Homo sapiens: one gene and its partners. The protein of the gene in region 2 interacts with the protein of the main gene of each other region in a pairwise test. Each region holds a gene or a part of one and is shown on either strand. Other genes may lie near its edges.

Region 1 (9,302 bases), on a different chromosome or scaffold from region 2:
ACTGCATCAGACTAAAATTTCAGGATTGGATTGAATTTATTTATTTTCTTATTTGACCCTTTGTGGGTGGGGTAGACCAAGAAGATCCAAATTAACTACAGATAAAATTTTAAAGGTATATTTTCCCCCAAAAACGTCTCCAAATGTGGTGTGAAAAAAATCTGTAACCCTATGAGAATTTAATAAAATATGTTCATTTTTTATCTTCCTGTTTGTGATTTTCCCCAGTCCTGACTGACAACTCATAGGCCTCTGCTGCTTACTTTCCTTTCCTCCTCAGAGGATAGTGATTTATTCAGTAATAAATGCTATAAAGGACAATGAAGAAAGTGCCACAAATGTCCTCTTGTTTACTTCTCTCTAAAGAAATGATTATGATGAAGGCTGTAGGGGAATCTATAGGAAATTTGGACTACAATATTTCCACTAAATTTTCTCAGAAACAAACCTGTCAAATATGTATTCCAAGCATATTTGAGAAGAACAAGATTATGTTTAGATATGCTGAATGATTCAGACTACCTTTTCATACCATTTGGTTTTGGCAGAGGCAATTATTTTCTCAATAATTTTCAAACTTGTATGTATCTCAGGGATTCTTTTAAAAAAACACGTTTTTGATTCATTTTAAGTTATTTTAACAATGTTTAGCAATGTAAGTCCACATATAAGATACCCAAGCTTTAAATATCTATACATATAAGCTGATTTCAGCATCTTTGGCTTCAAAACAGTAAAATTGCATTTCCAATATCAAACAAGTCAAATTTGGAAAAGGCATAAATCTGTATGAACATCCTGCATCCATGGAGATGTCATGACTAAATTCAGAAATAGCCTCATCTCTCTTTTTTTTTGCTTTCTTATGTCTGAGTTCTGCATCCAATTCTGTTTATTACATAGTTTTCGATAAGATTGTACCCCTTTTAAACAGTGTCTATTGATATATATTCTAGGTGTCTGGAAGTCTTTTTCTACAGTCGGCTCTTGGTTGTCTCTGGGAATATGAATGGAAGGAGCGGAGTGAAAATAAATCTGAGGGCAATATTCATAAATAATCCAAGAGCTACACTGTAGTCAACTCTCCCCAGAGCCTGACCACAGTGTTTCCCTCTCTCCTCCTCCCAACCCCTGCCACTGCCTGACGAGCACAGAAATGACCTTGCTTTAGAGAGGAGAAGGACAAGAGGAGAAGAGGCATGTTTATCATCAGCCCTGCAGAGTTGACCGCGTGTATAGATGCACTGCCCTTCCAGGCCCAGAGGGAGATTTCCCCTTCAGGAACAAAAAACAGTCAAGCTAACTTACAACTCCCAGAGCGCTGCAAGCAAGGGCTAAAAACTTCAGCCACTCGATCTCCTCCGTGAAGCGACCCACATTCATCACACTATTAAACAGATCTGTTGGGAGATTCACCACTTTCCACATCTGGGCCAGCTCCTCTGCACGGATGATCAGTCTGCCAGCAACCTGCAGGGCAGGGGACAGACACAACACAGAGGTTGTGGGAGAAGTTGAGACAAGGCCCTGAGAAACACCCTGTCCCCAGGCCAGGTCCACATCTCCCAGCACATGGCAAGGGGCGGGAGGGGGTGTTAGGAAGGTAAAGATGGCTCTGTGTGGCAGTTATCTTTGCAAATCCTAGTGAAGAGCATGCTGAAATATAATTTATTAATTCTCAAACTTTAGGTGTCAGAATTATGCAAAAGATATACATTTATATTACATTTTAATTTCTGGTGATGCTTTTATCTGCTATTGTATTCCTAAATTGTTTTATTCCTTATATGACAGATAGAAGAGCCTGAAAACAAAACCAAGGGGTAGAGGGCTTACCTGAGACCACTAATGAATGGTAAAATTAGAACAAGACATAGGTCTGTTTCTTCCCGATTGCACTGAGTTCTTAGCTCTAGACCTCAAGTGCATCCCTCATGCTTTCCCAGGAATGATATGGGGTATGTGGCTGACCTGTGGGGATTTGGTCTGGATGCCTAATGTTGCTTGATCCCAGGTATTTTAGAGCTCTGTCATGTTCACTGCACAAGGTACTTGGTGGATAAAAGGAGGGAAGGTGACTGGTTGTTGGCCACCAATGCAACAAGAGCACAGATGCCCGATGAAGTGCTCCAACACCTTTCCTGACTGTCTGATTCTAGTGAAATGCTAAGCCTCTGGGACCAAGGTGGTTAGCCAAGCCAGTCCTAAATCACCCCAAACCGCTCTGTCCTGGACCATAAAGCAGGGTTTGGTGGTGCTCAACCATATGTCCTGGGAATTTGCCAAACCACAAACTTTCTCAAGCTGCACCTTCCTCATGCATTCATTCACCAGGCAGCTCCCAGGATGATGTGGCTATGAAGAGGCTCACAGCCTCTCCCTAAAAGCTAAAAGCAATGTCTGGACCTTGGATAGCTGGGGAGCTAAAATATGCCCTTCCCCAAACTGTGATTTTCATCATATTACAGTCTTGATCAGTAAGGAGACACTGTCCAGTGACTGAGGACTTGCACTTTTCTGGAGAGACGAGATTAGCATTGCATTGAGCCCCTGTACATTCTGCCAGCTTCAAGGAAATCTGGGATGACCCCACCAATGACTCAGCCTACAGCCTATTTCAAAATTATTCCCATTTGCCAAGGAAAGATTTACTTTCAGTCCACGGTTTAGTGTATTTTAGGGTGGTGCTAAGTGGTCAGCTGACTGTCAGGAGAACAGAGGGCTTTTTGTCTGTACCCACCCAGCCTCAACACTGTCCCTACATTCTCCTCAATGCTGCAGCAGGGCCCTTACCTGAGAATGCAGGATCTTTAACAGCTCAGGTGTTAGCTCTGCCCGGTTACACAAAGCGACTCGCTCAGACCGCTCTCTCACCGGAGGCGTCTCTCCACGGGACAGGGCCTCAAAATAACTACAAGAAAAAAAGTCAGAGAGTAGGAGGATCCTATACACCAGTGGCCTCTGGCTGTTCTAGCAATCCTTCCACCTTCTTCTGAGGGAAGGAGGTAGAGAAAGGAACCTTTGTTAAGTGGCTTCTATGTGTCATTGTGTTTAGTTCACTTACATATGGGAAAAGTCTGAATGTGTTACTCTCCACTTAGGGCATAGAGAATGCTTAGAGAATACAAAGCTTTGTTCTTCTCTAAGGATGAGGAAGAACCAAGAAAAGTTTGGGTATGCAATTCCCTGGAGCATATTGGGTTCAGGTTTCTTTTTCAGTCATCTCTGAGTGTTTTATACACGCAGATGTATATTACATATGTATATATAATATTGGGAAGAGAAGTTGGAAGAGAACTAAAAAGTAATGTACGTAAGAAAGGGGAAGGCAGCACAGGAATGGTGGCTAGGGCCTGTAATCTGGTGACTCCAGGCTGGAGGACCACTTAAGCCCAGGAGTTTGAGGCTGCAGTGAACTATAATTGTGCCACTACACTCCAGACTGGGTGACAGAGTGAGACCCCCATCTCTGAAGAAACAAAAAAGGAGGGAAGGGGAAGAGATGGAAGTGTCCTGGGGTGAATCAGGAAGGGTTTCTGGCTGGAGGTAGTGAGGCTTGGGGCTTCAAGAGGGAAGGGAGAGAGCATTGGCAGGGCAGCCTGCAAGGCTCAGGAGAGAAGAGAAGCCGAAGAAGGTTTGAGACAATCTTAAGCTATATGGTGCCTCTGAAATGAAACTGTTTCTCCATCTTCCCTCAAAATTTTCAGTGAAATCTGCCTGCTCCTCAATGTTTTGTGGAGTGGACTTCGTTTGGGGGCATTGTGGAACAAGTACTGAGTTCTGTTTCAGGACTGGCATAAGATGAAAAGAGGCTGCCTGCAGCAGGGAATGGACATGAGCCGCTGACATGTGGGTCACCAATGCAGCATGGCAGGGTCTGTCTCCATCAAAAGCCTGGTTATTGACGATCCATGAACCACAAATTTCTGTCCCGCCCTGCTTTTTTCCCTCCATTACTTCCTCCAGATCCAGGTAGTATGAAAATAATATAGAGGGAATTTTGTAAAAGTCCATTTCAGGGTCAAGCCATACAATGATGGGCTAACCATTGCCTGTCTCTGAGCCACGTAGCAAGGCAGAGCGAAAGCTACATGGACTAAAGCAGTAATTGCCAGTCACCCCTTGGAGGTCATCAGCAGGAAGGGCACCTTTAACAATGTGCATGAGAAATCTCTGCACACAGATCAGTGTTGGGGTGGGCGGGGTGTGGGTGCAATATGACAATAGGAGCAGGGTGTGGCCTCAGGCTTTATAAACCAGACTTGGGTGGTATAAATGGGAGGGACAGAGACACACAGCACCTCATTCCACAGAAGTGCTGCCCAGGTAGAGTAACACTCATCACCAACATCTCTGGACTTCTTGTGGAATTGGTTAGACAACATGGAAGCAAAGCTGTAATCATGGATTTCGTTCTTTGGGTTATTGAGCTTCATTTGCAAGTGATCAGGTCCATGGTTATACACATATATTGCAAATTTGTGTTGTAACACATGCCTACCAGAGGACAAATAAGTATATGTCCTGCCGATGCCTGGTAAGAGGTTTCTTCATTGACAACACATATGTAGGGAAATTCTTACTTGCAATGGATTAAAAACGTATTTTGTCTTGGAAACACTTTGCAGAGTTTTATTCTCTAAAATGCTACAGGTTTTAAGTAAGTCACATACAACCATCTGAGCAGTGCTTTTCATGTCTGGATAGAATGGAGGGGGCTCTTAGGTCATGCCCTCCTTTTTCATTGTGGTTAAACTACAAACTAAGTTTTCATGGATGTCTAAAAAAATTATAGCACGTGATACAATACGAGAGCAAGCAGTCTACAATAGTGGAATGCCTCTTCCATAAATGTCAGGGACAATACTAAGCAATGTCAGTTTGCTTACTATAAAACGGCAGCACAAGAACAATCAAATGGGTTTGAAACTAACGTATAAGATAAAGTCTGTCTATCTGACTATGCCAAAATAAATTAGTCTTCTGAAGCTAAAGTTCAATCTTAGAGGCAATATATAAAATTTAAAATGGAGAACTAAACAGGGCTCATTACTAGGCAAAGCAACCCCCATTTATGTTTCTTTTTATGAGCACCACTGGCTTATTTTCCTTCCAATTGTAAAAGCTACATCCTAATCCAGTCCAGGAGCACAGCACTGGCCCAGAGACTCCGAAAGGCCCCTCTTAGATGCCATTTTGTGTCTTCTCAAAGGTGTCCACACTCTCCCCACCATCTGCCCAGGACACCCACTCACAACCTCAGCCTGAGGACATCTTCCCTTCCCCAACTCACTGGCTTTCTCTCAACGGCCTCTCTCACTCTCACTTTCCCACTGAAACCCTCCTAAGCAGGGAATCATCAAACAGTAAAAATAGCCTGAAAATGGTCCGTGAGGTCTAGTTATCTTCCAACTCCTGTCTCAAGTCCTGGTTCCCCAGTTTCAAGCAGGCAAGTTTGTCCAAGGAGCAATTTCATAGCTGAGAGGCTTTCTGTGCAAAGCTACTTCAATCCAGGCCCGCAGCGATTGTTGTGTAAGCTCCATCTACTGAGCAGCCTCTGGAGGTCTCTCCTGAAAGAAGGCACCCGTGTTTGAGGCACACTGTTTTCAGCCATGCCTGAGGACCCCATCACTCTGCTTGGCCTTTCCCCAGAATGCAGTGTGTACTGTGCGGACATCTTTATGTTGGCAGAACAAAATCAGTTCAGAGAAACACTAAAGAAAATAACAATAATTTCCTCCAAGACAAGATATAAAGGGTCTTTGGTTGGGTCCAAGTATGAGTTTTAACAGCAGGGGAGGAAGTGTCTCCTTAAAGGAGTGAACTAGCAGGACTGGTCCCACCCCATCCACCCAGGGCTGTCGCTTCCCTCCCCCGGCTGCACTGCTGCCATCTAGTGGTGAGACAGGAGAACGAAGAAAGGCAGATTAAGCTTCGGAGATTCCCAGCCCTTCTTTCCACCGGGAGTGGGAAAAGGCGTGCAGGGAGGAGGTGGGTGTGCATACGCTGGTGTGACGCGGTCATCTAACTTGCTGCTTGCCCCAGGACACGGCCTATTGACCTGGCGTCCTACTGCTCAATCTGGCTCCCTTAGGGGAGGCATCCCATCCTTGCCCAGCTAGATGTAGCATTTATGTGTGGATTTTAAAGCATCAAAGCAATGCAAGAGCTAAAACAAAGACGATGCCAGTTAGTCCGGACTTCCTAGCTGCAGCCATGACAACCTCCGCGGTTTTACAGGACCCTCTGTCTCCGGCCGTCCTCCAAGGGGTGAAGGCGAGAAAGGAGCACGTACTCGGCTGCCCACTGGATGAGGTCCTGCGGCTGCACCCTAATGGCGGCTTTGGCAAACTCCTTCAGCATCTTCGGCAGCTCCGGCGGGATGCATGTTGGCTTATCTGTCTGAGCCATTGATTGGTTGGCCTATTCTCAGGAGAAAAAAATACGTTAAGATGAAAACTTCGATTCATACGATGAGAGCAATCCTGGACAGGAGGTCACCCAGCCTCTGTTTGACACTCAATTTTGGGGACTCTGCAAGACAAATGCATTCTATTATTACACAACGCCAAGGTTAGAAAACCATCTGCTAACCCCTACTTTTTGTTGGAAATAGTTATGTCCTTTACATAAAAATTACACAGCCCTTGTTCATTTAAAAAGTGGAGGTCAGCAAAAAATTCCCTAATGATATCGCCCCAAAATAATGATATCACCCCCCAAAATCCAGAATTTTTCAGTATATATATGTTTGTAAAATAAAAAAATAAGATTATACAAAACAGCTTATTTACTCAAAAGTATATCATGAACATCTTTCCATGTCGTCCAGCACTTATTAGTTGGGTAAGAATTGTAGCAAAATTTACTCTGAACCCTCTGTGAATTGACATTAGGCCATTTCCACATAAAAATAGTCATTAAACAGCCATTTGGTGAGCGTCTCTCTTTACAGCTGCATGTTCTTTTCCACTCTAATTGTCAGGTGGAAAATTCGTACATTTTCTCTCAAAAAGTTCCAGGACAAATTGAAACAAAATATGAAAATCCATAAAGTGTATACAATTCCCTCCACAAATAAACAACAGATCAAAAGATTTTTTTCTGCTTTTAGTAGAGAAAGGGACAGACTAGATATGCTAAAAAGCTGTCCCTCTTCAAAACACCTAGAGGCCAGACAAATCTCAGTACAAGCCTTTCACATTGCCTTGCTGGGCTTGCAGTGAAGTGAGAGAAATCTTCCAGTGGCCAATGAGGTGAGTAAAGGGGAACCCGCAGTGCTGGGCAAATGAAGAAACTAGGGCTCACCTGGGCACATGTAGATGGCAGGAACTTGCAGCTTTGAGATAAATTGCTAGGCAGGGTGGATAGAGACCAAGGATTAGGCTCACAAAAGGCAAATGTCTGGACTAAAGGACTCCCCTTCTGACCTAAACTTGAGACCCGCCCAGGGACTACACCCTCAGCGTGAAAAGGTGTGGCTGAAAATATCCGCCTACAGGCAGGGGTAAGCAACAAAGAAACCTGTCTCCATTGCTGCTTCTAGTCAGGAGAGAAACAGTCCCCCAGGAGTTGGTAGCCACAGACTAGTTCTAAGTTTTCAATTTATGCCAACACCAGCATGGCTGGGAAATCCCAAGACAAGAAACTAAAGTGGTCTTAGGTTGGTGGGACTTCATGACCTTTTACTTTATTTATGTTCTTTTATTTGGAGGAAAAAGAGGATAAAATAATGATTAATTTTAGACTTTGCAAAGTGTTAGAAAAGTTATAACAGTAATGTAACCACTAAATCTGTAGAGAGGAAAAAAGGAATTTTTTAAAAACACAAACAAGCAAACAAACAAAACCCTTCATCAGTCAAAAAGAAGGCAAGAAAGGAGGGGTAAAAACAGGAAAAGTAGACAAATAACATGGTAGAAAATAATGCATACATATCAGTAATCACAATAAAAATAAATGGGCTTAAATGTGCCAGTTAAAATACAGGTATAGGTACACCTGAAAAAATGAAGACACAGAAAGACTCAAGGTGAAAAGAGTATAAATAAGCAAAGAATAACCAATAAAAGTTAAGGTAGACATACTCATGCCAGACAAAAGATACTTTAAGGCAAAATGCACTATTAGGAAAAAAGAGTGACGAAAGCTTCAATTGTTTTTGATAAAATGATAAAAAGCTTCAATTGTTAAGACAATAACAACAATTCTCAATGAGTATGCCACAGACATCACCATGGAGGAGTCTCACCATGCTAGGTGGAAAAGCAATATATTGTTTCTGGTGACATATATATGTTATAATATTATAATAAAGAGTAAGGAATGATAAATACAAATTCAGAATGGTGGTTACCCCTGGTGGAGGAGGGAGAGGATGGAGAGGGATGTTATTAGGGAAATACAACAAGGGTCTCAGTACTATTAGTAATGCTCTATGTTTTAAGCTGGATGGTTGCTGTCTAGATGCTTGTTTCATTATTTTTATACTTCTACTTACATCATGTATTTAATTTTGTCAGTATGAAATATTTCATCATTTAAAAAGTTACTCTTATAAGTTGTTTCTGATGACTTTTCAACCCATTTTATCTATCAAAGAGCAGTGCCTTATTTGCTCATGTTGTCTGCACATATATATATTCTTTTACTGTGTTAAAAATACATACAATTTACCATTTTAAATGTACAGTTCAGTGTCATTAAGTACATTCACATTGTTGTGCCACAATCACCACCAGCCATCTCCAGAACTTTTTCATCTTCACTAGCTGAAACTCTGTACCCATTAAGTACTAACTCCCTATTCTCCTTCCCCACAGCTCCTGGCAACCACCATTCTTCTATCTTCATGAATTTGACTATCATATAAAATCATATGGCATATAATATTTGTCCCTTTGTGTGTGGTTTATTTCGCTTAGCACAATGTCTTCAGGTTCATTCATGTGGTAGCATGTGTCAGAATTTCCTTTTTTTTGGATCCATAGTCAGATGTGTTACCCATTGCACCACTGGCCCCAAGCTGAGAATTTCCTTGTTCTTAAGGCTGAATACTATTTTGCTAGATGTACCACAATTTTATCCATTCATAGGTCAATGGACAGTCGGATCATTTCCACATTTTAGCTATTGTGAATAATGCTGCTATGAACATAGGTATACAAATATGTGTTCAAGTCCTTGCTTTAAATTGTGTTGGGTATATATACCCAGAAGTGGAATGGATGGATCATATGGTAATTGTATTTTAATTTTTTGAGGAACTGCCACACTGTTTTCCACAGCGGCTGCACCATTTT
Region 2 (7,825 bases):
CAGCAGAATGTAGGCAAAGCAGGAGTCCTCTGAATAGGCAAGTGCCCTTTTCCTCACTTCCATCTTAGGAGGGGATGTCACACCAGGTGGTTTAGAAGAAGCAGTGATGGGCTGGGCACAGTGGCTCATGCCTGTAATCCCAGCACTTTGGGAGGCCCAAGCAGATGGATCACTTGAGGTCAGAAGTTCGAGACCAGCCTGGCCGACATGGCAAAACCCTGTCTCTAGTAAAAATACAAAAATTAGCTGGGTGTGGTGGTGCGTGTCTGTAATTCTAGCTACTTGGAAGACTGAGGTTTGAGAATCACTTGAGCCCAGGAGGCAGAGGTTGCAATGAGCCGTGATCGTGCCACTGCACTCCAGCCTGGTTGACAGAGTGAGATTCTGTCTCAAAAAAGAAAAAAAAAAAAAAGCAGCAGCAGCAGTGATGACACAGGAGAAGCAGTCAGGGGGTAGCCTGATGAGAAAGTCTTGCTTTCACAGTTTTTTCTCTGTCTTATCTCTTCCGCATCTTATTCCCTTTTGATAATAGAAGGTCCAATGCATGTCATTCCACATCTGTGTTCCTGTTTTCAACTTTTCCCTATTAAAAAAAAAAAGGAGGAGAATGAAAAACCTTGTATAACCAAATTATTTACTATTAGTTAATTTAGAGTGATGAGATTGGAAAGGGGCATGAAGATTATCTTTTTCTCTTTATACAATTCTGAATTGTTTGACTTATTACAAATAGATATGTTACTTTTGTAAATAACCAAACAAGAAAAGAAATGGCTATGATAGCCTAGTTTTAATGAGTTACAAAGCAGATGACTTCACCTGTACTGAAGAAATGTGTGCTTGGCTGTACAGGGATGTACATGTTACCTCTACTACAGCCCCACCCAATTTAGGCCCCTTCTGCTCTGCAGCCCCACTCTGCAGTGCACACAAGGAAGGAAGACTGCATTTAGAGTCAGATTAAAACAAGCCCTGAGCACTGGCTGGAGTGTCAGTTCCCCAAGAATATTCACCCATCCCCAGAGGCTGGCAGATAGTATTAGAGTTGCTCAGTCTTTGTGGAAAGAGTGAATTACTGTTGCAAAACAGAAATGACTTTTCTTCCAAATAGTCATCCAAACTTCCAAGCAAATCACCGTAAGATAGTATGATGCTCATTATTCGAGTATTCAGACATAACAATTGTTGCACATGGCAATATGCAATTACTTTTGGAAACTTCTGGTAGCTTAGCAAGATAAGGGGTGAGCTACTCTGTTACTTGTTTATTTCCGAGTGTCCACTTGTGAGTCCTCACATGCCCTGTCTCAAAAACAAAAGTTAACAAGGAGCTTCTTGCCAGTGGTGTCTGCTGCTCTTTCCTTACTAGAGTGTTATATATCTGACCTACCGTTTGTGGACTAGCCTGGGAACTAATTATCATTTATAACATTACATCTTTGAATAAAAGAGTACCAAGTATCAAACAACCAACTTATAAACAAATATTATGAATATAACAGCCTTGCAATTTAATAACTTTTTACAGTTTTGAATATTAGAGACCCATCACTTTGATGGATTTATTTGCCCTTCAGTTATTACCAAGTGATTCTGAAAAGTCCAGGGGTTACTAATAAGTGCTGATTTGACTGCTCCTCCCTGCCAGGCTAGTATGGAGGAGAAAGACTTTTCACTCTTGAAGGAACACACCATGCTCTTCTCCGTACATCTTTGCACTCTCTGGTTTTGGTTTTATGTTTACAAATGCCTGTGATATGGGGGGAAAAAGAATCTTTGTTTAAGAAAAAAAATCAGCCATGTGCTAATCAGGTGATAGAAGAGAAAGAGATCTAAGGCGGCACTGATCTAAGCCAGAGGTGGGACATTTAGGATAAAGTTAAAAGCAGAACATGGGCTGGGCACAGTGGCTCACATCTGTAATCCCAGCACTATGAGAGGCCGAGGCAGGCGGATCATGAAGTCAGGAGATCGAGACCACCCTGGCTAACACAGTGAAACCCCATCTCTACTAAAAATACAAAAAATTAGCCTGGCGTGGTGGCATGCGCCTGTAGTCCCAGCTACTTCGGAGGCTGAGGCAGGAGAATCGCTTGAACCTGGGAGACGGAGGTTGCAGTGAGCCGAGATCGCTCCACTGCACTCCAGCCTCAAAAAAAAAAAAAAAAAAAAAAAAGCAGAATATGAAAGACTAAGTACAGTTCAAATGCAGTGGTGACTTTGATTTATAGCAAGAACAAGTTTTCCATTTGCTCTATATGGAAACGTAAAGAGATTTTGAAACTGCTTTAACAAGGGCTGCCACAAGAATTTCTTTTATTGACTTGAAAAATTACTCCTACATTCATGATGTCACAAAATCGTATGTATTTTTCAGTCATGGTTTCATGCATTTTTATTCTATAAACATACATTATAAGTATACAAATATAGATTATATTCTATAAATAATTCAAGGATTTATAACATATCTAAAGATACATTCCTTATAAATATCAGGGATTTTTCTGTATAAATTACTTGTTTGTTTATTATTATTATTATTATTTTGAGATGGAGTCTAGCTTTGTCACCAGGCTGGAGTGCAGTGGCGTGATCTCGGCTCACTGCAACCTCCGCCTCCCGGGTTCAAGTGATTCTCCTGCCTCAGCCTCCCGAGTAGCTGGGATTACAGGCACACACTGCCACGCCCAGCTAGATTTTGTATTTTTAGTACAGACGGGGTTTCACCATGTTGGCCAGGATGGTCTGACCTCGTGATCTACCCACCTCAGCCTCCCAAAAGTGCTGGGATTACAGGCGTGAGCCACCCCACCTGGCCTATAAACTATTTATTTATTAGCACTGTGCTAGTGGTTTAAAAAGAAAACAAAAACAGATATGGTCCCCGCCTTGCAGAGCTTGCTGCCTAATTGTCTGGTCACCGAGTGGCCTGACTTCATGGATGGCTGCTGCGGAGTAGCAGTTGAGGAGCGAAGAGGTCTTACAGAACACCCACAGGCCGCATCCAGAAGCCTCACTCATTCTCCCTGATCTCAGAATGTCCTTTTCTTTTCAGCTATGCCTCCAACAAAGCAAGTAAAGCTGCTTCCGTCCTTCTGTATTCTCTGTGGGCACACACGGAACTGCATCATGCCTACAAGAAGGTAAGAACATGAACAAGGAATGTGTCATAGTTAACAGAGCCAGGTAATAATGGCCCACTTGACTTGACCCTGGGAAGAAATCGCTAAAAAACTGCATTTTCTTGTGTGCCAGTTTTGTTACCTTTCACGTTTCTGTTTGCTTATTCCAAAGGCTCAGTTTAAGAAGACAGATTTTGTCAACAGCCGGACTGCCAAAGCCTACCACTCCCTTAAAGACTGAGGAAAATGACAAAGTATTCTCGGCTGCAAAAATCCCCAAAGGAAAACACCTATTTTTCTACTACCCAGCCCAAGAAACCTCAAAAGCATGCCTTGTTTCTATCCTTCTCTATTTCCGTGGTCCCCTGAATCCAGAAAACAAATAGAACATAATTTTATGAGTCTTCCAGAAGACCTTTGCAAGTTTGCCACCAGTAGATACCGGCCACAGGCTCGACAAATAGTGGTCTTTGTTATTAGGGCTTATGGTACATGGCTTCCTGGAATCAAAATGTGAATTCATGTGGAAGGGACATTAATCCAATAAATAAGGAAAGAAGCTGTTGCATTACTGGGATTTTAAAAGTTTGATTTACATTTATATTCCTTTTCTGGTTCCCATGTTTTGTCACTCATGTGCACATTGCTTCGCCATTGGGCCTCCAGTGTATTGTTCTGCAGTGTTGAAACAGAATGGAAATGACAAGAAATATCTGCAGTTATCCAGGAGAAAGTATAATGGCAAAATTATTGGTTTCTTTCTTTACTTTGTGCTTGTTTTTATCCCCTTGGGTTGTTTTTCTCTGATTTTTAAATAAACTTAAGAAATTTAGATTACAGAGTATGCATGACTGTAAGAAAAAGAAATTGAGAGGAAGTGATCATAGCAAATTAAAGAAGTCTTTTCCTCCCAGAACTTAAAGTAAAATAAAAAATAAATAAATAAATAAAATCTTTTCCACAGAGAAAGGCAACTGTGATGATAAAATTTAACGTTCCCCCAAACACTGAGTCAATGAGATTTTTCTCAGGAGATACTTTACCTATAACAACGCCGTTAAATCCAAATCTCTTCTAAACGATGGCATTCTATGTAATGCCTTTCCTGGACTTTTTTGGCCACTGCCCTGGACTAGTGAAAGAATGGACTCTATCTTTATCTGCAAGAGGAACTAAGGCCTTCTCTCAGACTGCCTGGCCAGCCTGGGGCACTGAAAATACGGCTCATGTTAATGAGTTACATTATCAGCCAGCCCAGCCTTGCCCACCATTTAAGAAATATCACAGAGCCACTAGATCTCATATGATCTTCTTCAAGCCATTATTTTAACTCAAGAAAACTCTAGAGAAGAAAAGTGAAGAAGTCATGTTGAAGAAGATGTAAGAATGTGTCAAGACCATCCAGAAATGATATGAGAAATACTGATATTTTAAATGGTTGACATCATCCAGCGAAATGAATCTACATTAAATGTTGTTTTAACTGCGCTATGATTAAAACCATTCATATAGAGTTAGTCTTTACAACTACTATTCTGTTATTTTTTTTTTTAATCTGACAACATTTGTCCTAAGTAAGATAAGCAAAAAAATTCTTCAACTCCTTTTGGCAAGAAAACTGTAACAGAAAATAAATTTTGAATGTGTACTTAAGTCTTTATTATATTTGAAGCAATTTTTTTTCAATTTTAAAAGCTGAATGAAGACAACTTAGGTTGCTAACCTAGTTCAAAATGAAATTATTTAGATACCAATTTTTAAAATACTGGAGAGAATTTATATGTCTTTTTCCAGAGTTCTGATGATAAGCATTTGGAGTGCATTTATTCCTCCAGATAATAAATGTGTGTTCAGAACTTTTTGTGTTTTTTAAGGCATTAATAAAGCCTTCGATAATATTAAATACAAAATGAGACCAAAGTAGTGTTGCTTGCATTGGCGTCTGTGTATATCTGGTTTATTTGTGTATCTTGGAATATATGGTATGATTGACATAAAATTTGAGGATTTAACCTTATAAACTTCAATTACTAAGGGTTTGATACTTTGTAATTAGTTATATTTTCCCCTTAATTAAAATCCTAAATTTTTACCAAGAGACATTTCCTGTGAGAATGGTGGGACTAGATGGTGACCTGACCATAAAAATGAAGACACATGCAGACGTGTTAGCTGCGGTTAGATTTTAGTATATTATTGGGTGATTCTGTGACTGTGAAAAGACAGACTACGTTTGATTTCCATGTGCTGCTTTGTTCACTCTGTTTGCAAACACCTCACTACTTTACAATTTGTGAACACCTCTCAGGGAGGTTCTTCTGTGAATGAACAGTTTTGATCACAGGTCTATACATAAATGTGTTTGTTTTCCTATGTGTCCCAGACAGGGCCCATGCCTTCAGAGAAACTAATGGGCAAAGCTGGGCCTTTTTGTTTATTTGTTCCAAAGGGCTGCTCTCTGTCAAGAATTCTTAATGGTCTTCTGGAATGAAGGGGGTTGCTGCCCTAGATTTCCATCACTGGAAACGTTTGTGTAGATCTGATGGCAATAACCAAAGGGTTATCTGATAAAATAGAGAGGGGATTAACATGTCAAGTGGGAGAATAAGCAGCAGGACTAGATAAACCACTATAAAACCAATTTAATCACCTTCTGAAGAAGCAATTTCTTAGAAGAAAACAGGAGATGGGAGATATATATATATATACACACACACACACATACGTTTATATATAGACACCTACATATATATATATATGTGTGTGTATGTGTATGTGTGCCTATATACTATAGTTATAAAATGAGATTTCCCCTAAATAAAATGTCTAATGAACTTACTGCTTTGGAATAAGGAGGACTTCAGTATGTGTGTACATTGAACAAAATTGCAGAAGAAGCCTCAAATCACAGAATCTCAGGATTAAGAGGGAATTTAGAAGGCATTTGGTCAAATCCTCCTCAAAGTATCATCTTGCATGAAAAAGATTCAGTTCTTATTAATGTGACAGAAAAGAAAAACATACAGTCATACACTCAACTAATGCTCAACATGACCATATAACTGGCTCTTTTCAAGACTCACTGTTGGATTAAAGTATTTCTTGTGGGAGGGAAAATAGATAAGGGAGCAAACTTTTCAAAATAAAATTCTGCTTTAAGTTTCATGTTTTAGTTTATAGTGATACTGACAGTTTCATCACTTATGAAGTAAATGTTAACCTTTGAAGGACTATAAGAAAAACTCTTTGTGATATGATGTTCAGGAAAGAGCTCAAAAATCCCAAGCATTGGCATAAGAATTGTTGAAAATATGAGCAGAAGGGAAAGTGCCCTGAAGGCCCTAGTCTGGGAGACTCAGTGAAAGGATCCAGCAGTCCTTAGCCTGAGAAGGGTGCTGTGTCACCTCTCTGTACATATTTGAAAGCCCACTGTAGAGAAGATGATAGGCTTGTTCTGGCATAACACAGAGGATGAAACCAGGATCAATAGGGGGAGGCTGTTATGAGACTAGCTTTGATAGGGTAATAGTGGACATATATTGAGTACTTCTCACAGCCTCATGAAATCATCCTTTTCTTTTTCTTTTTCTTTTTTTTCTTTTTTTTTTTTTTTTTTTTTTTTTGAGACAGAGTCTCGCTCTGTGGCCCAGGCTTGAGTGTAGTGGTGCCATCTCGGCTCACTGCAAGCTCCGCCCCCCAGGTTCAAGCAATTCTCCTGCCTCGGCCTCCCAAGTAGCTGGGACTACAGGCGCATGCTACCACGCCCGGGTAATTTTTTCTGTTTTTAGTAGAGACAAGGTTTCATCTCGTCTTGATCTCCTGATCTCGTGATCCACCCCACTCAGGCTCCCAAAGTGCTGGGATTACAGGTGTGTGCCACCACACCCGGCCTACTTGTTAACATTTTAAGAAGCATGAGAAAGAAAACCTCGAAGCAGACAGAGGTTAAGTCATAGCTGGAAAGTACAGAGGGGCTTTGTGAACCTAGATGGTTTGGCTCCTCTCTGGGAGTCCCCTGTGAACCAAGAATGAACAATCCATGTCTCCGTGCTGGTGAACAGTGGAGGTCTCTTTGGCTTTGCTATCTTTAGAGAGTAAAGAGTTCAGTATGACATCATGGTTAAGAGGGCTCATTCTAGAACAGCCAGTCTGCGCTCAAATTGTGGTTTCTCCACTTATTAGCTGAGGCACATCTCTTATTCTCACTGAGCCTCAGCTTTCCTTATCTGTAATGTGTGAGTGACAGTAGGATTTACCTCATTGGGTTGTTTTGAGGGTTAACTGTGTTAATAAATACAAAGCATTTGAAACAGTGCCTAATAGTATCTACTCAATAAATGCTGATACGGTTTGGCTGTGTGTCCCCACCCAAATCTCATCTCAAATTATAATCCCCACATGTTGAGGGAGGGACCAGGTGGGAGGTGATTGGATCATATTGGATCATAAGGGTGGTTTCCCTCATCCTGTTCTGCTGATAGTGAGTTCTCATGAGATCTGATGGTTTTATAAGGCAGTTTTCCCTGCTCTTACTTGCTCTCTCTCGCCTGCCACCATGTAAGACATGCCTCTTCCCCTTCCACCATGATTGTAAGTTTCCTGAGGCTCCCCCAGCCATGTGGAACTGTGAGTCAATCAAACCTCTTTCCTTTAAAAATTTCCCGGTCTCGGGTATTTCTTGATAGCGGTGTGAAAACAAA
Region 3 (4,874 bases), on a different chromosome or scaffold from region 2:
ATGGGTCACGCCTATAATCCCCGTACTTTGGGAGGCCAAGGCAGGAGGATCACCGGAACTGAGGTGTTTGAGACCTGCTTGAGCAACATAGTAGGACCCTGTCTCTACCAAAAAAAAAAAAAAAAATTAAATTAGCTGGGCATGGTGGCTACTGTAGTTTCAGCTACTCAGGAGGCTGAGGCAGGAGGATCACTTGAGCCTGGGAGGTCAAGGCTACAGTGAGCCTGGGTAACAGAGTGAGACTGTCTCAAAAAAAAAAAAAAGGAGAAAAAGAAAGATGTAAGTGTGTAAGTGAAGCCTGGAGATGCAGACACCTGCGAATGGGCTGCTGAGGGGCACTTGGCTATGGCTGGGGCTCAGGAAAAGTGGAGCTCAGGGAAGAGAGGCTAGAACAGGGCTCAAAGGGCCTTGAAGGCCAGGCCTGTCAGGGTCCATCACCTCCTCAGGCTGGAGAAGTCAGTGCAAGCTGCAGTGATGGGGTCCTGAGGCCCCAGTACTTCTGCCCATCCTCTCCCACTGTCTCCCAAGATCATACAGGGAAGCCTGTTTCCAGATGCCTGTGATTTATTTCCAAAGGAGAGCTACAGCACATAGGAAAATACACATGGCTTTTCAGTCTACATTTTTACAGAGAAAAGAGATTCGGTCATTGGCTTTCTCAGTGCCATCATCCTGTTCCATGAGGCTCCAGGATGGATGGCCTGTCTCCAAGATCCCGCTTTCAAAGCAGCAGCTTGGCCAAGGCCTCTGGGGGTAGGAGTGAAGGGCAGCGACCCCCATGTGCGGGTGGAGGGGAGGACATGAGCAGCACTCACTGCAAAGCTAAGGCAAAGAATAGAGCTGGTGGGAGATGCCTCCCCTCACCCCAGGGGCATGGCTTGCTGAGGCCCAGGATACAGACCAGGAGGGGTGGGGATGGGGGTCTGGTCCAGCCTGGAGCGGCAGCAGGACTCTGAGTGTACACATGGGTGTGGGGTGAAGAGGGGGGCATGCTGAAGAGGAAGCCTACCAGGGTATAGAGGGGCTTTAGCTTGCATATTCCCCCTGCCCCAGAACAGCTCCCAGACCATGGTCCCCAATCCTACACTTGGCCCCTCTCTTAAGTTCTACTTCAGGTGGGGGTCCTGCTCAGGTTCCTTCTGCCACCTTATCCCCTCCCACTGTCAGTGCAAAACATTCTTAGGGCCAAGCCCCTGAGTCCCCTGCACACTGACTGGAGCTGCAGGGAAGGGAGGACAGCAAGGTGCTAGCTGGGAGCCTCCCCCAGCACCAGGAATTCCTTGCACATCTCTCGGACAATCATGCGGTCCATCTGGCACTGGGGTGAGGTCTCCTCCTCATTCAGGATGCGTCGCAGTATGGCCTGCAGGTCGGGTAGCCGGTGGCGGTGCTGCAGGTAGGGTGTGGTGCGGACTATAGCATGCATCAGGGAGAGGTACTCCATGCGCAGCTGTGGGAAGAGCAGGCCAGCTCAGGGACCCCAGGGAGGTACTGCAACCACCACTGGACAGGGACAGGACCCCACTGTCCCACAGACCCCAGGGCTGTGGACCTGAACATCAGGGCTGCATCCCCAGCACCCACAATATACCTGGCACAGAATTGGTCTTCAATAGTTTTTGAGTAAGCGAATAAACGAATCATCCCAGCCACAGACAGCCCCAAGTATGTGGCCTGCCCAGGGAAGTCCTGCCCATCCTTTGAAGCTGGGTCTCTCAAGGTGCCTCTGTCTATCAGTCAGAGGCCCTCTGCTTCTCACCCTATCCTCTCTTACCCTGGAAGACCTCGTGCACATTCACAGCTTCAAATAGTGAACCACTCTCATACCTCTTACCTAGAACTCCCCTGTGAGCTCCAGACAAGAATATTCAACTGCCCACTTGACATCTCCTGCACATGTGACAGACCTCAAATCCACATATCTACCACCAAACTCATGATCTTTCCCATCCTCCCAGAGTTGAAGGTTTTCTCATGTTCTTACCTTTAGAAAGAGCACTGTTGCCGATTCAAAAGCACAGGCCTGAAATATGGTGTCCTCTTTGCTTCTTGTCTCCCACATACCTCATATCCAAGCCATGTCTAAGACCTGGCCATCCTACCTCCTACATATGCCCCAAATTCATCTCCAACAGCCTCTCCTCCAACCTATACTCCCAACACCTCTGGCTGAACCAGTTCCAACAGCCCTTATGATCTATATATATATATCATATATATATATATATATGATATATATATATATATATCATTTTTTTTTTTGAGACAGGGTCTCGTGCTGTCACCCAGGCTGGAGTGCAGTGGCATGATCTTGGCTCACTGCAACCTCTGACTCCTGGATTCAAGTGATTCTCCTGCCTCAGCCTCCCAAATAGCTGGGATTACAGGCATGTGCCAAAATGCCTGGCTAATTTTTGTATTTTTTTTAAGAAGAGACGGGGTTTCGCCATGTTGGCCAGGCTGGTTTCAAACTCCAGACTTCAAGTGATCCACCCACCTCGGCCTCCCAAAGTGCTGGGATTACAGGCGTGAACCACCACGCCCGGCCAGCCCTTATGACTTGACAGCTTGTTCTCACAGAGACCCCCAGTCCACTGACCTGATGTCTGCTTCCCTCAACATCCCTCATTTCTCTTTTTACCTTTAATTAGAGAAATAATACCAAAACCTCCTTTAGGCAGCACACCCTGCTAAGTCCCAGCCCTGGGAGTCATACTGAGGTGCCTGCACATCAAACACCAGCGTCTAAGCTATAGACAAATGCAGAGCCATGTGCAGGCCTGAATGTCATTCACCACCGCAAACCTCAAACGGACACACAGCACTGCCTGAGCCTCCCACTGCTTTTCTCTGCTGTGTCACTCTCCCTTAGAGTAGTAATAATGTCCACCTTCTCTGTCTTTGAAACCTACCTACCTTGTCAGCTGGCCTTGTGCTTCATAGAGAATACAGAAGTAATCTTGCAGAAACCCGTCTTTCCCCTCAGTACCCACATCTCACCTGTCCCTACCAGAATGAGCAGCCCTAGCTCCTGTCCATGTGGGCCTGGACCTGAACTCTCCCCTCCTGCCCCATCCACTTGACTCCTGTGGTGGCTCACCATCTCCAACACATCATCCATCTCTCTGTGCTTGCTGGATCATTCCCTCCGGCTCAGAACATGCACCATCATCCGTACCATTTTTGTTTTTGTTTTTTAAAGAGACAAGGTCTGGCTTTGTTGCCCAGGCTGGAGTGCAATGACACAATCATGGCTCAATGCAGCCTTGACCTCCTGGGCTCAAGTAATCTTCCCACTTCAGCCTCCAAAGTAGTTGGAATTACAGGTGCATACCACCATGCCCAGCTAATTTTATTTTCTACTGTGGTCCATCAGGTTATACAGAGGTCTCACTATGTTGCCCAGGCTGATCTTGAACTCATGGACTCAAGTGATCCTCCCACTTCGGCCTCCCAAAGTGCTGGGATTATAGGCGTGAGCCACTGCACCTGGCCAACATCCCCCATCTGTCACCCAAGCTGGAGTGCAGTGGTGTGATCTTGGCTCACAGCAACCTCCACCTCCCGGGTTCAAGCAATTCTCCTGCCTCAGCCTCCCAAGTAGGTGGGATTACAGGCTCCCACCACCATACCCAGCTAATTTTTGTATTTTTCGTATTTTGTATTTTTAGTAGAGACCACTTTGACCAGGCTGGTCTCGAATTCCTGACCTCAAGTGATCCACCCACCTCAGCCTCCCAAAGTGCTGGGATTACAAGCATGAGCCACCGCGCCTGGCCAACATCCCCCATCTTCAAAACACTCTCCCTGGCCAGGCACGGTGGCTCACACCTGTAATCCCAACACTTTGGGAGGCTGAGGCAGGTGGATTGCATGAGGTCAGGAGTTCAAGACCAGCCTGGCCAACATGGCGAAACCCTGTCTCTGCTAAAATATAAAAATTAGCTGGGTGTGGTAGTGGGTGACTGTAATCCCAGCAACTTGGGAGGCTGAGGCAGGAGAATCACTTGAAACCAGGAGGCGGAGGTTACAGTGAGCCACGATCGTGCCACTACACTCCAGCCTTGGCAACAGTGGGAGACAAACAAACAAACAAACAACAACAACAAAAAACCCCCAAAAAAACACTCTCCCTATCCCCATGTCATCTCTCTCCAGCAACCTCCCTTCCATTTTTCTCTTCCCCTTAATAGAAAATTCACAAGAGTTGTCTCCATTTACTGCTTCCAACCCTCCCCTCATTTCTACTCCCCAATAACTTCAAGCTCTCTCAAACTTTCATTCAGACTCTCCTCCTTGCACCCCACTGACACTGCTTGTCAGGCACCACTGACCTCTGTGTGGTGAATCCAATGGCCAACCCCAGTCTCGCTCAGGCTCCTAACGGTATAGAGATGGCTGATCGTCTTCCTCTAAACATGTGGCTTTGGGCTCCTGCTTTCTTGGTTCTCTTCCTGGGTTTCTCCCTAGTTGTTTCAGCTGTGCCCAGGGCTGCAGCCCGAACTTCCCGCTGACCTGCCTATCTATCTCATTTCTGAGGCAATCACATTGTCACAGGCTTCCCATCGTATCTCTGCATAGACCACTCCGAAATGTCTCTCTAGTCTCAACTCATTCCCCACTGCCTCCCTGATGCCCTCGGTACCTGGGTGTCTAGCAGATATCTCCTCATTCTTGACACATTCAAAACACGACTCTCTATTTTCCCCCAAGAAGTTCTCCCAGCCTCCCCAACTTCAAAAATCAGCACTTCATCCATCTAGCTGCTCAAGATAAATCAAGTGGCAAGCCCTGCCAGATCCACTTACTAAACACTCCACAGCTGGCCTCTTCTCGCCACTGCCACTGCCACGACCTATCCCATCCCCACCCCA
Region 4 (9,302 bases), on a different chromosome or scaffold from region 2:
CTTAAAGGAAAGGGGCACACTCTTCCCTGCCCCTTTCCTCCTTCCTTCCAGATAGAATACAAACATGATGGTCGGGGAGTTTCAGCAACCGTCTTGGATGCCAAGATAAAAGTCTTGTGTTGAAGGTGGAGGAACAGCAATGGAGAAAGAACCTGGGTCACAGATGACTGGAAAGCCATCATTCCATCCCTGAATAACCTACCTGGACTTTTAATGAGAGGGAACTAAATTTGTATCTTATTTAATCTACTATTATTCTGGTTTCTATTATGGAATCAGAATGGATATTGCTTGGGAGGCTGAGCCGGGTAGATCTCCTGAGGTCAGGAGTTTGAGAAGCCTGACCAACATGGTAAAACCCCGTCTCTACTAAAAATACAAAATTAGCTGGGCGTGGTGCCAGGCGCCTGTAATCCCAGCTACTCCGGAGGCTGAGGCAGGAGAATCGCTTGAACCCAGGAGGCGGAGGTTGCAGTGAGCTGAGATCGCGCTACTGCACTCCAGCCTGGGCAACAGAGTGAGACTCCATCTCAAAAAAAAAAAAAAAAAAAAAAAAGGAGCCGGGCGTGGTGGCTCACGCCTGTAATACCAGCACTTCGGGAGGCCGAGGCGGGCAGATCACGAGGTCAGGAGATCGAAACCATCCTGGTTAACACGGTGAAACCCCGTCTCTACTAAAAATACAAAAAATTAGCTGGGCATGGTGGCAGGCGCCTATAGTCCCAGCTACTCGGGAGGCTGAGGCAGGAGAATGGCGAGAACACGGGAGGCGGAGCTTGCAGTGAGCCGAGATCACGCCACTGCACTCCAGACTAGGTGACAGAGCAAGACTCCATCTCAAAAAAAAATTAAATTAAATTAAAATTTAAAAAATGAAAAAGAATTGATATCCTAACTAACTGAAGAGGCTCAGTTTCAGAGAAGTGAAATGACTTGTCCCAGAACACACAGGTGCTAATAAGTTAGGGAGCCAGACTGGAACCTAGGTCCTCCTGACTCCAGTCTTCCCACTCCACCTTACTGGGGACTTCACTGGGCCATTACTAGGGAACTAGGAAGAGACAGGCCAGAGCCAAAGGTGTTACCTGGAGCTGGGAGTTGAGGTCATCTTTCTGTCCCATAAGGTCCTCGTACTCAGCCTGCTGCTGCTGCAACTCAGCTGCCAGCCCAGTGGTCTGTTCCCGGAGCATATTCAGTTCTTGGGTCTTTGCTGTTTGGATCTGGAGAAAGTAGTGGTGATGAGAAGTAGAGTGAAAGGGACCCCAGGGGCCAGGGACAGGGTATGAGCCCCCTAGTTCCAGGGAAACAGGGAGGGAGGTGGGAAGAGAACCAGGAAGAGAGAGGAAATTTCAAACAGAAAAACAATGAAGAGAATGGGTAAATGTGGTATGTTCATACAATGGAATACCACACAACAGTAAGAGAACAGATCTGTGCTGCCACGTGGATAAACTTACATAGTGCTGCCAGAAAGAAGTCAGAGACAAAGAGCAGCTGATTCCATTTATATGAAGTTAAAGAACAAGCGAAATGAATCTTATGTTGCTAGAGATCAGAATAATGGTTACTTCTGGGGGAGTACTGACTTTGAAGGGGTAAAGGGGACCTTCTGGGGTACTAAAAGTGCTTTATACTTTGATCTGGGTGGTGGCTATGGTGGCGGGGAGAGAGAGAGAAAAAAAAGAGAGAGACGAAGAGAGGATTCACTGAGTGTACACTTAAGATTAGTACATTTCATGCACTTTACTAGAGAGAAACTAGAAACAAAGAAAAGCAGAAGCCGGGCGCGGTGGCTCATGCCTGTAATCCCAGCACTCTGGGAGGCCGAGGCGGGTGGATCATGAGGTCAGGAGTTCGAGACCAGCCTGGCCAAGATGGTGAAACCCCGTCTCTACTAAAAATACAAAAATTAGCTGGGCATGGTGGCACACGGCTGTAGTCCCAGCTATTTGGGAGGGCTGAGGCAGGAGAATCGCTTGAACCTGGGAGGCGGAGGTTGCAGTGAGCCGAGATCGTGCCATAGCACTCCAGCCTGGACAACAAGACCGAAACTCCGTCTACAAAAAAAAAAAAAAGCAGAGATAGGCCAAGCACAGTGGCTCACACCTATAATCCCAGCACTTTGGAAGGCCGAGGTGGGAAGATAGCTTGAGGCCAGAAGTTTAAGCCAGTCTGGGTAACATAGTGAGACCCTGTCTCTACAAAATAATTTTGTTTTCTCTTTTTTGAGATGGAGTCTCACTCTGTCACCCAGGCTGGGGTGCAGTGGCACAATCTCGGCTCACTATAACCTCCACCTCCCAGGTTCAAGCAATTCTCCTGCCTCAGCCTCCCGAGTAGCTGGGATTACAGGTGTGCGCCACCATGCCCAGCTATTTTTTTTTGTATTTTTAGTAGAGACGGGGTTTCACCATATTGGCCAGGCTGGTCTCGAACTCCGAACCCCAGGTGATCCGCCCGTCTCAGCCTTCCAAAGTGCTGGGATTATAGGCGTGAGCCACTGCGCCTGGCCTAATTTTTGTATTTTTAGTAGAGACAAGGTTTTGCCATGTTGGCTAGGCTGGTCTCAAACTCCTGATGTCAGGTGATCCGCCCACCTCTGCCTCCCAAAGTGCTGGGATTACAGGTGTGAGCCATCATGCCCGGCCAATAAGTTTTTTTTCGTTTTGTTTTTTGTTTTTTTGAGACAGAGTTTCACTCTTGTTGCCCAGGCTTGAGTGCAATGGCACGATCTCGGCTCACCGCACACTCCACCTCCTGGGCTCAAGCAATTCTCCCACCTCAGCCTCCCGAGTAGCTTGGATTACAGGTGCCCACCACCACACCCAGCTAATTTTGTATTTTTAGTAGAGACGGGGTTTCTCTATGTTGGTCAGGCTGGTCTCGAACTCCTGACCTCAGGTGATCCGCCCTCCTCGGCCTCCCAAAGTGCTAGGATTACAGAATTGAGCCACCATGCCCGGCTTTTTTTTTTTTTTTTTTTTTAGACGGAGTCTCGCTCTGTTGCCCAGGCTGGAGTGCAATGGCACGATCTCGGCTTACTGCAACCTCCGCCTCCTGGGTTCAAGAGATTCTCCTGTCTCAGCCTCCCGAGTAGCTGGGATTACAGGCACACACCGCCACACCCAGCTAATTTTTTGTATTTTAGTAGAGATGGGGTTTCACCGTGTTGCCCAGGCTGGTCTTGAACTGAGCTCAGGCCATCCACACATCTTTGGCCTCCCAAAGTGCTAGGATTACAGGCATGAGCCACCACGCCCTTTTTTTTTTTTTTTTTTTTTTGAGACAGAGTATTGCTCTGTCGCCCAGGCTGGAGTACAGTGGTGCGATCTCGGCTCACTGAAACCTCTGCCTCCTGGGTCCTGGTTCAAGCAATTCTCCTGCCTCAGCCTCCCCAATAAAATTTTTAAAAGTTAAAAAAAAAAAAAAGTAGGGATGGATGGCCAGAGAGAAGAGGGCTGGACGCCAACAGAAAGGAGCAACAGAAACAAAGACAGGAGAACAGCATGGGGTCCAGACCACCCTACCCTGATGTGGACCAGAAGCAGATGGAGATGGGGGAACTGGAGAGGGATCAGCAAGGGCCCCCAGGTGTTCTTTACCTGCTCCAGGGCAGCCAGGCTAGTCCTCAAGGCATTGTTCTCAGCCAAAAGCCCTTCCACTTGTTCCTGTGCATCTGCACTCTGGATGGATACCTGGCCCCACGTCCACAGCAGGTGAGAGTGGGTCCAGAACAGGGGGACAGGACCTACCCACGACCAAGAAAGAAAGGACACACACACACACACACACACACACACACACACACACACACACACACACACACACGAAGGCCTGGGGGAAGCAGGATCCCTGGGACCTTGCCTGACTATGTAGTACCCACTCAGGCTGCCCCCATCCTGAACCCCAGCTCCCTGAGCCCACGCAGTACAATATACCTGATCTTGTAGGGCCCGCAAAGCTGCTGCATGTTCCAGGCGCTCCCCCTGCCGCTGATCTCTCAGCTCTGCCAAGCTCTGTGGAGACCAGGGGAGCCCATTTTACACCTCAGCCTCTCCTGGGGTGCATATAACCGTACAGACTCTCTGTTTGACCACCCAGCAGCATGTTCTCAGCACCTGTGGGTCTCAGACTATCCAGCCAACAGCAATCTCAGGTTCACCCAGACGCCAGGTCACTACCCTCAGGGGCCTCAGACACAGTCAACCCCTCTATCCCAGCGTACAAGATCTCAGGCACGACTAGACTCCTGGCCCTAGCTGCTACGCGGTTCAAACTCACTCAGCTCCCATCCATAAGAAGTCTCATGCTCACCCAGATTCTAGCTTGGGAGCTCCAGGATTCTCAGACACAGTCAGCCCCATGGATCTCAGATGTAGTCAGCACCCAAGGATGACAGTTTCACCCAGCCTCCCAATCCCAACCACCAGGGGTTTCAGACACACTCATCTCCCACGTCCCTACTTCCCAGGTGAGATCCACCCAAACTCATAGTCCCAGATCCTAGAGGTCTCAAACTCACAACCTCCTAGTTTCCAGGTCCTGGTGAACTCTCAGACTGACCCCTTCACCTGTCACTCTGCTCCCCAGTCTCTTGGAATCTTCAGACCCAGTTAACCACCAGTTCCTGGGGGTCTCAGCTTTACCCAGACTCCCGTCTCAGACCCCATGTTCCCAGTTTCTAGGGACTTCAGAACCACAAGCCACCATATCCTCCATTCCAAGGGACCTCAGACTCACCTTTTCTAGAAGGAAACCCAGAGGCTTCAGAACCATCCAGCCCCCAGTCCTCAGGAGCCTCAGACCCACCTAAACTTCTGCTCCAGCCCCTGGAGGTCTCAGACTGACCAGCTTTTTGTTCACAGCCCTCAAGGATCTCAGGACTACCTAGCCCATATGATCCCACTTCCTAGGTGTCTTAGGCCCAAGCCAGCGCCCAGATCCTGAGGATCTCAAATGCACTCAGCCTTCAGCCCCAACTATCTCACCCTTGAAAGTTGTATATCTACCCAGCCATGTCCTCAGCCCTTGGGAGTCCCAAATTTACTGACATCCCAGCCCCTAAAGATTTCAAAGTCACCCAGCACCCAGGGAGTTCAGACTTACCCCAGTTCCTGGTCCTAGGCCCTAGTGACCACAGATTCATCCAGACTGTGGTCTCAAACCTCCAGGAGTTTCAGATTTACACAAACTTATAGCACACAGCCCCCTAAGTCCTTAGCCCCCTGAGATCTTACACTCATGAAGACTCCTATAACAATTCCTAGGGCTCTCCAATTCCCATTTTCCTAGCTCCTGGGGGGCCCCAGAACCCATTTCCAACACAGGAAATCTCAGACTCCCCAGCCAGCCTCCATGGACCTCAGACCTCTCCAGGCTCCCAGTCCTGGCCCCTACCCCAGGGATCTCAGAACCCAGTCCCCATCACCTGATTGGCAGCCTCAAGTTCCTGCTGCAGCTTCTGGGTTCGAGCCAACTGGGCTTTGTGATCAGCTTCCTTCCGTTGTTGTAATTCCTCAATCTTGTTCCTAGGAGTGATGGGGAGGGGGTGTGTTGGACATGGCTTGAGGCCCAGTCTCCTAGCTCTGCCCCTGTAATCTTCACTGGGCACTGTCCCAATTGTCCACCAATACCCGCAAATCTGGCAGTTACCTGCTGTCATTAAACAGAGTCTCCTTTTCTGTCTGCAGACGGCAAAAACTGGGCACAGAAGGACAGATGTAGATGGGTCAGTTCCGTAAGTTAATTCCCCCCTCGGCCCCCAGTACCCTTGGGAAAAAGAAATTTACCTTTCTTGTTTCTTTTTCAGTTTCTCGGAGAGCTGGGGAGAGAGGTACAGACAAGTGATAACATTGAGAATAATATAAAGACAAACCTAAAATTAATAAATATAGACACTTCTTATTAAGTCATTTTTGGAAGCCAGGATTTACTTATGTTGTCTTGTGGAATCCTCAAAATAGCCCTGACAAGTGAGTAGTACCAGTTTTACAAATGGGGAAACAGAGTCTTGGAAAGGTTAAGTAATTTGGTTGCTCAGCGGGTCAGCAACAACAATATTATCTCCACCCAGATCCTTCAGGTTCCAAAGCCCGGTATTTATGCTCCCAACATAGTGGCCAATGGCCATGTTATAGATTGGCTAGGCTGGGAGGCCTGGAAAGCAGGATATCATGACTGGGTGCCGCACCCCTGGGTCTCCAGGTCCTAAGATAAGAGCCAGGAGTCTGTAAATGCTTGCATGAATGAATGAATGAGTGAATGGGCAAAGCTGAGAGATGGATGGGATGAAACTTATCATGCACAAGATATAGTGGGACCACATTAACTCATTCCATACTGAAAGTAACTCTGAGACATAGGTGTGAGTCTCTCCATTTCACAGATGATGAAACCTAGGCTTTGATGGGGTACAATGCCCCTTCTGCCCTAGGATTGGGAATGGAATGGGAAAGAATCCAGCAGATTGGGAGCAGAATGGGAAAGAGCCAAGCAGCCGCACCTTAGCAAGTTCCTCCTGCAGCCTGGATGTTTCGGCCTGCTTTGAGCTCTGCAGGGAAGGATGAGGGATGGGAGGGTTGTTGTTAGCAAGGACAAGGAGAAGCCTTCCCCTGCCCTCCTGCCTCCCTCACCCCATCAGCCCACAAGATGGTGATGTCACAGCCATCTCCGTGGGACTATAGACAGAGGTAGAACATCTGCCCTGCCTTCTGGCATTCCAGCTCCAACAGACTCAGATTCACCTCTAAGCCTTGCAGCTGTTCCCAGAGCAATCTCTTCTCCTCTTTCTCCATTTCCCATTTCAGCTCCACCTCTGCCAACGGCATGGGGGCCAGGACGGTGGGGGCCAGGCCCCCTGGGGGATCCCCCTGGCCCTCACTGACAGCTGAGAACTTCCCGGCTTCTTTCCCATAGCGTTCCTGCAGGGCTGGTGAGTAGAACAGGGATATATGATGGATGAGGTGGTCTCTGAAGTCCCTTGCCATGCCTCGAATAGAGGGAGAACTGGCCTTCAACCCCTCAGGTGGCAGAGTCCCTGTGCCAAATGACCACATGCCTAAAAGACGAAGGTTCAGCTCTATCCATGCCTCTCACATTTTTTTCTTTTTTTTTTTGAGACAGGGACTTGCTCTGTCACCCAGGCTGGAGTGCACTGGAATGATCACAGTTCACTGCAACCTTGACCTCCTGGGCTCAAGTGATTCTCCCACCTCACTCTCCCAAGTAGCTGGGATCAGAGGTGTGTGCCATCATGCCGGGCTAATTTTTTGATTTTTTTGTAGAGACAAGGTCTCGCTACATTGCCCAGACTGGTCTTGAACTCCTGAGCTCAAGCAATCCTCCCACCTCAGCCTCCCCCAAAAATCTTTTTCCGTGGCTGGGCACGGTGGCTCACGCCTGTATCCCAGCACTTTGGGAGGCCAAGGCAGGTGGATCATGAGGTCAGGAGTTCAAGACCAGCCTGACCAATATGGTGAAACCCCGTCTCTACTAAAAATACAAAAATTAGCTGGGCGTGGTGGCGCACGCGCTTGTAATCCCAGCTACTCGTGGGGCTGAGGCAGGAGAATCGCTTGAACCCAGGAGGCAGAGGTTGCAGTGAGCCGCGATCGAGCCATTGCACTCCAGCCTGGGTGACAGAGTGAGACTCCGTCTCAAAAAAATCTTTTTCCCTAGACAGTCTTGCTCTGTTGCCCAGGCTGGTGTGCAGTGGTGCAATCATAGCTCACTGCAACCTCAAACTCCTGGGCTCAAGCGATCCTCCCAAGTAGCTGGGACTACAAGTGCACACCATGCCCAGTTAATTTTATTTTATTATTTATTTATTTGTTTATTTTCTTGAGACTGAGTCTTTCTCTGTCACCCAGGCTGGAGTACAGTGGTGTGATCTCGGCTCACTGCAACCTCTGCCTCCCAGGTTCAAGTGATTCTCCTGCCTCAGCCTCCCAAGTAGCTGGAATTACAGGCATTTGCCATCAAACCTGGCTAATTATTGTATTTTTAATAGAAATGGGGTTTTGCCATGTTGGCCAGGCTGGTCTTGAACTCCTGACCTCAGGCGATCTGCCCACCTTGGCCTCCCAAAGTGCTAGGATTACAGGTGTGAAACACCGTGCCTGGCCTAATTATTTTATTTTTAGTACACACAAGTTCCTGCTATGTTGCCTAGGCTGGTCTTAAACTCCTAGCCTCAAGAGATCCTTCTGCCTCAGCCTCCCAGAGTGCTGGAATCAAGGTATGAGCCACTGTGCCCAGGCTCTCACAAATATTTTAAGCCCTATCAACCACTAAGATTCTGTTTACTATTAAATTAGCCCAAGCTGGTTTCACAAATCCCATTCTCAATCCTTGAAGCCCCACCCATAGCCCTTGAAGGCCATGCCCACCATATGCTACCACTGACTTACAGCTGAATCCCTCCTAGAGCCTCCTAATTCCTACTCACATTCTACTAAGTCTCCCTCCTGGTCATGGAACCAGCATCCATCACCACAGAAGTCCCAGCTGCTCTCCAAAGTTCCACACACCACATGCTCCCACACTCTATCAAGCTTTCTTTCAGCTTTCATCCCAGACCCCACTTACAATCTGGGCTCAGAATCTTCCCAACACTCCATTCACTTTTTCACTTAGCAAATATCTCCTTTTTTTTTTTGAGATGGAGTCTCGCTCTGTCGCCCAGGCTGGAGTGCAGTGGTGTGATCTCGGCTCACTGCAAGCTCCACCTCCCAGGTTCACACCATTCTCCTGCCTCAGCCTCCAGAGTAGCTGGGACTACAGGCGCCCGCCACCGTGCCCGGCCAATTTTCTGTATTTCTAGTAGAGACGGGGTTTCACCATGTTAGCCAGGATGGTCTTGATCTGCTGACCTCGCAATCCGCCCGCCTCAGCCTCCCAAAGTGCTGGGATTACAGGCGTGAGCCACCGCGCCCGGCCGCAAATATCTCCTTTTTGACATTCAAGCTGCTAATCTGTAACATCTGCTAGGTACCAGACACTGAACTAATGCAGAATGATATCACCTTTTATCTCTACTACAATCTTCTGGGTGACAGACATCACTACATGCACTGTGTAGATGATAAGGCTTTGGCTCAGAGAGGTGAAATGGCTTGTCCAAAGCCACACAGGGCATGGGCCAACCCTATTTCTGAAGCCCTTCTCCTTCCCCTGAGAGGATGACGGCCTTCCTTGCCCTACTCAAGCCCCAATGTCTCCGCATCCCCAGGAGGGCCTCTATGCACCTGCCACGTTCTTCTGCAAGGCTGTGTTTTCAGCCTGTAGCCTCAGCAGCTCCCCAT

What was found.
Region 1: the proteins of PKP2 (region 2) and ROPN1 interact in binary tests that used the Homo sapiens proteins (3 or more experiments, as listed by UniProt).
Region 3: the proteins of PKP2 (region 2) and NCKIPSD interact in binary tests that used the Homo sapiens proteins (3 or more experiments, as listed by UniProt).
Region 4: the proteins of PKP2 (region 2) and GRIPAP1 interact in binary tests that used the Homo sapiens proteins (3 or more experiments, as listed by UniProt).

Annotation. Positions count from the first base shown.
Region 1 is NC_000003.12:123,974,071-123,983,372, forward strand, and holds part of ROPN1 (ropporin-1A), read right to left. Parts: intron 7,355-9,302; exon of another isoform or gene 7,309-7,354; intron 6,535-7,308; exon of another isoform or gene 6,424-6,534; 5' UTR 6,412-6,423; coding exon 6,296-6,411; exon of another isoform or gene 4,605-6,295; intron 2,912-4,604; coding exon 2,794-2,911; intron 1,471-2,793; coding exon 1,309-1,470; intron 1-1,308. UniProt on the Homo sapiens protein: Important for male fertility. With ROPN1L, involved in fibrous sheath integrity and sperm motility, plays a role in PKA-dependent signaling processes required for spermatozoa capacitation.
Region 2 is NC_000012.12:32,787,965-32,795,789, reverse strand, and holds the end of PKP2 (plakophilin-2), read left to right. Parts: intron 1-3,058; coding exon 3,059-3,146; intron 3,147-3,297; coding exon 3,298-3,366; coding exon of another isoform or gene 3,367-3,511; 3' UTR 3,512-5,035; downstream 5,036-7,825. UniProt on the Homo sapiens protein: A component of desmosome cell-cell junctions which are required for positive regulation of cellular adhesion.
Region 3 is NC_000003.12:48,673,298-48,678,171, forward strand, and holds the end of NCKIPSD (NCK-interacting protein with SH3 domain), read right to left. Parts: intron 1,451-4,874; coding exon 1,247-1,450; 3' UTR 547-1,246; downstream 1-546. UniProt on the Homo sapiens protein: Has an important role in stress fiber formation induced by active diaphanous protein homolog 1 (DRF1). Induces microspike formation, in vivo. In vitro, stimulates N-WASP-induced ARP2/3 complex activation in the absence of CDC42.
Region 4 is NC_000023.11:48,984,183-48,993,484, forward strand, and holds part of GRIPAP1 (GRIP1-associated protein 1), read right to left. Parts: coding exon 9,246-9,302; intron 6,929-9,245; coding exon 6,744-6,928; intron 6,551-6,743; coding exon 6,503-6,550; intron 5,822-6,502; coding exon 5,790-5,821; intron 5,701-5,789; coding exon 5,653-5,700; intron 5,529-5,652; coding exon 5,429-5,528; intron 4,017-5,428; coding exon 3,939-4,016; intron 3,696-3,938; coding exon 3,603-3,695; intron 1,221-3,602; coding exon 1,086-1,220; intron 1-1,085. UniProt on the Homo sapiens protein: Regulates the endosomal recycling back to the neuronal plasma membrane, possibly by connecting early and late recycling endosomal domains and promoting segregation of recycling endosomes from early endosomal membranes.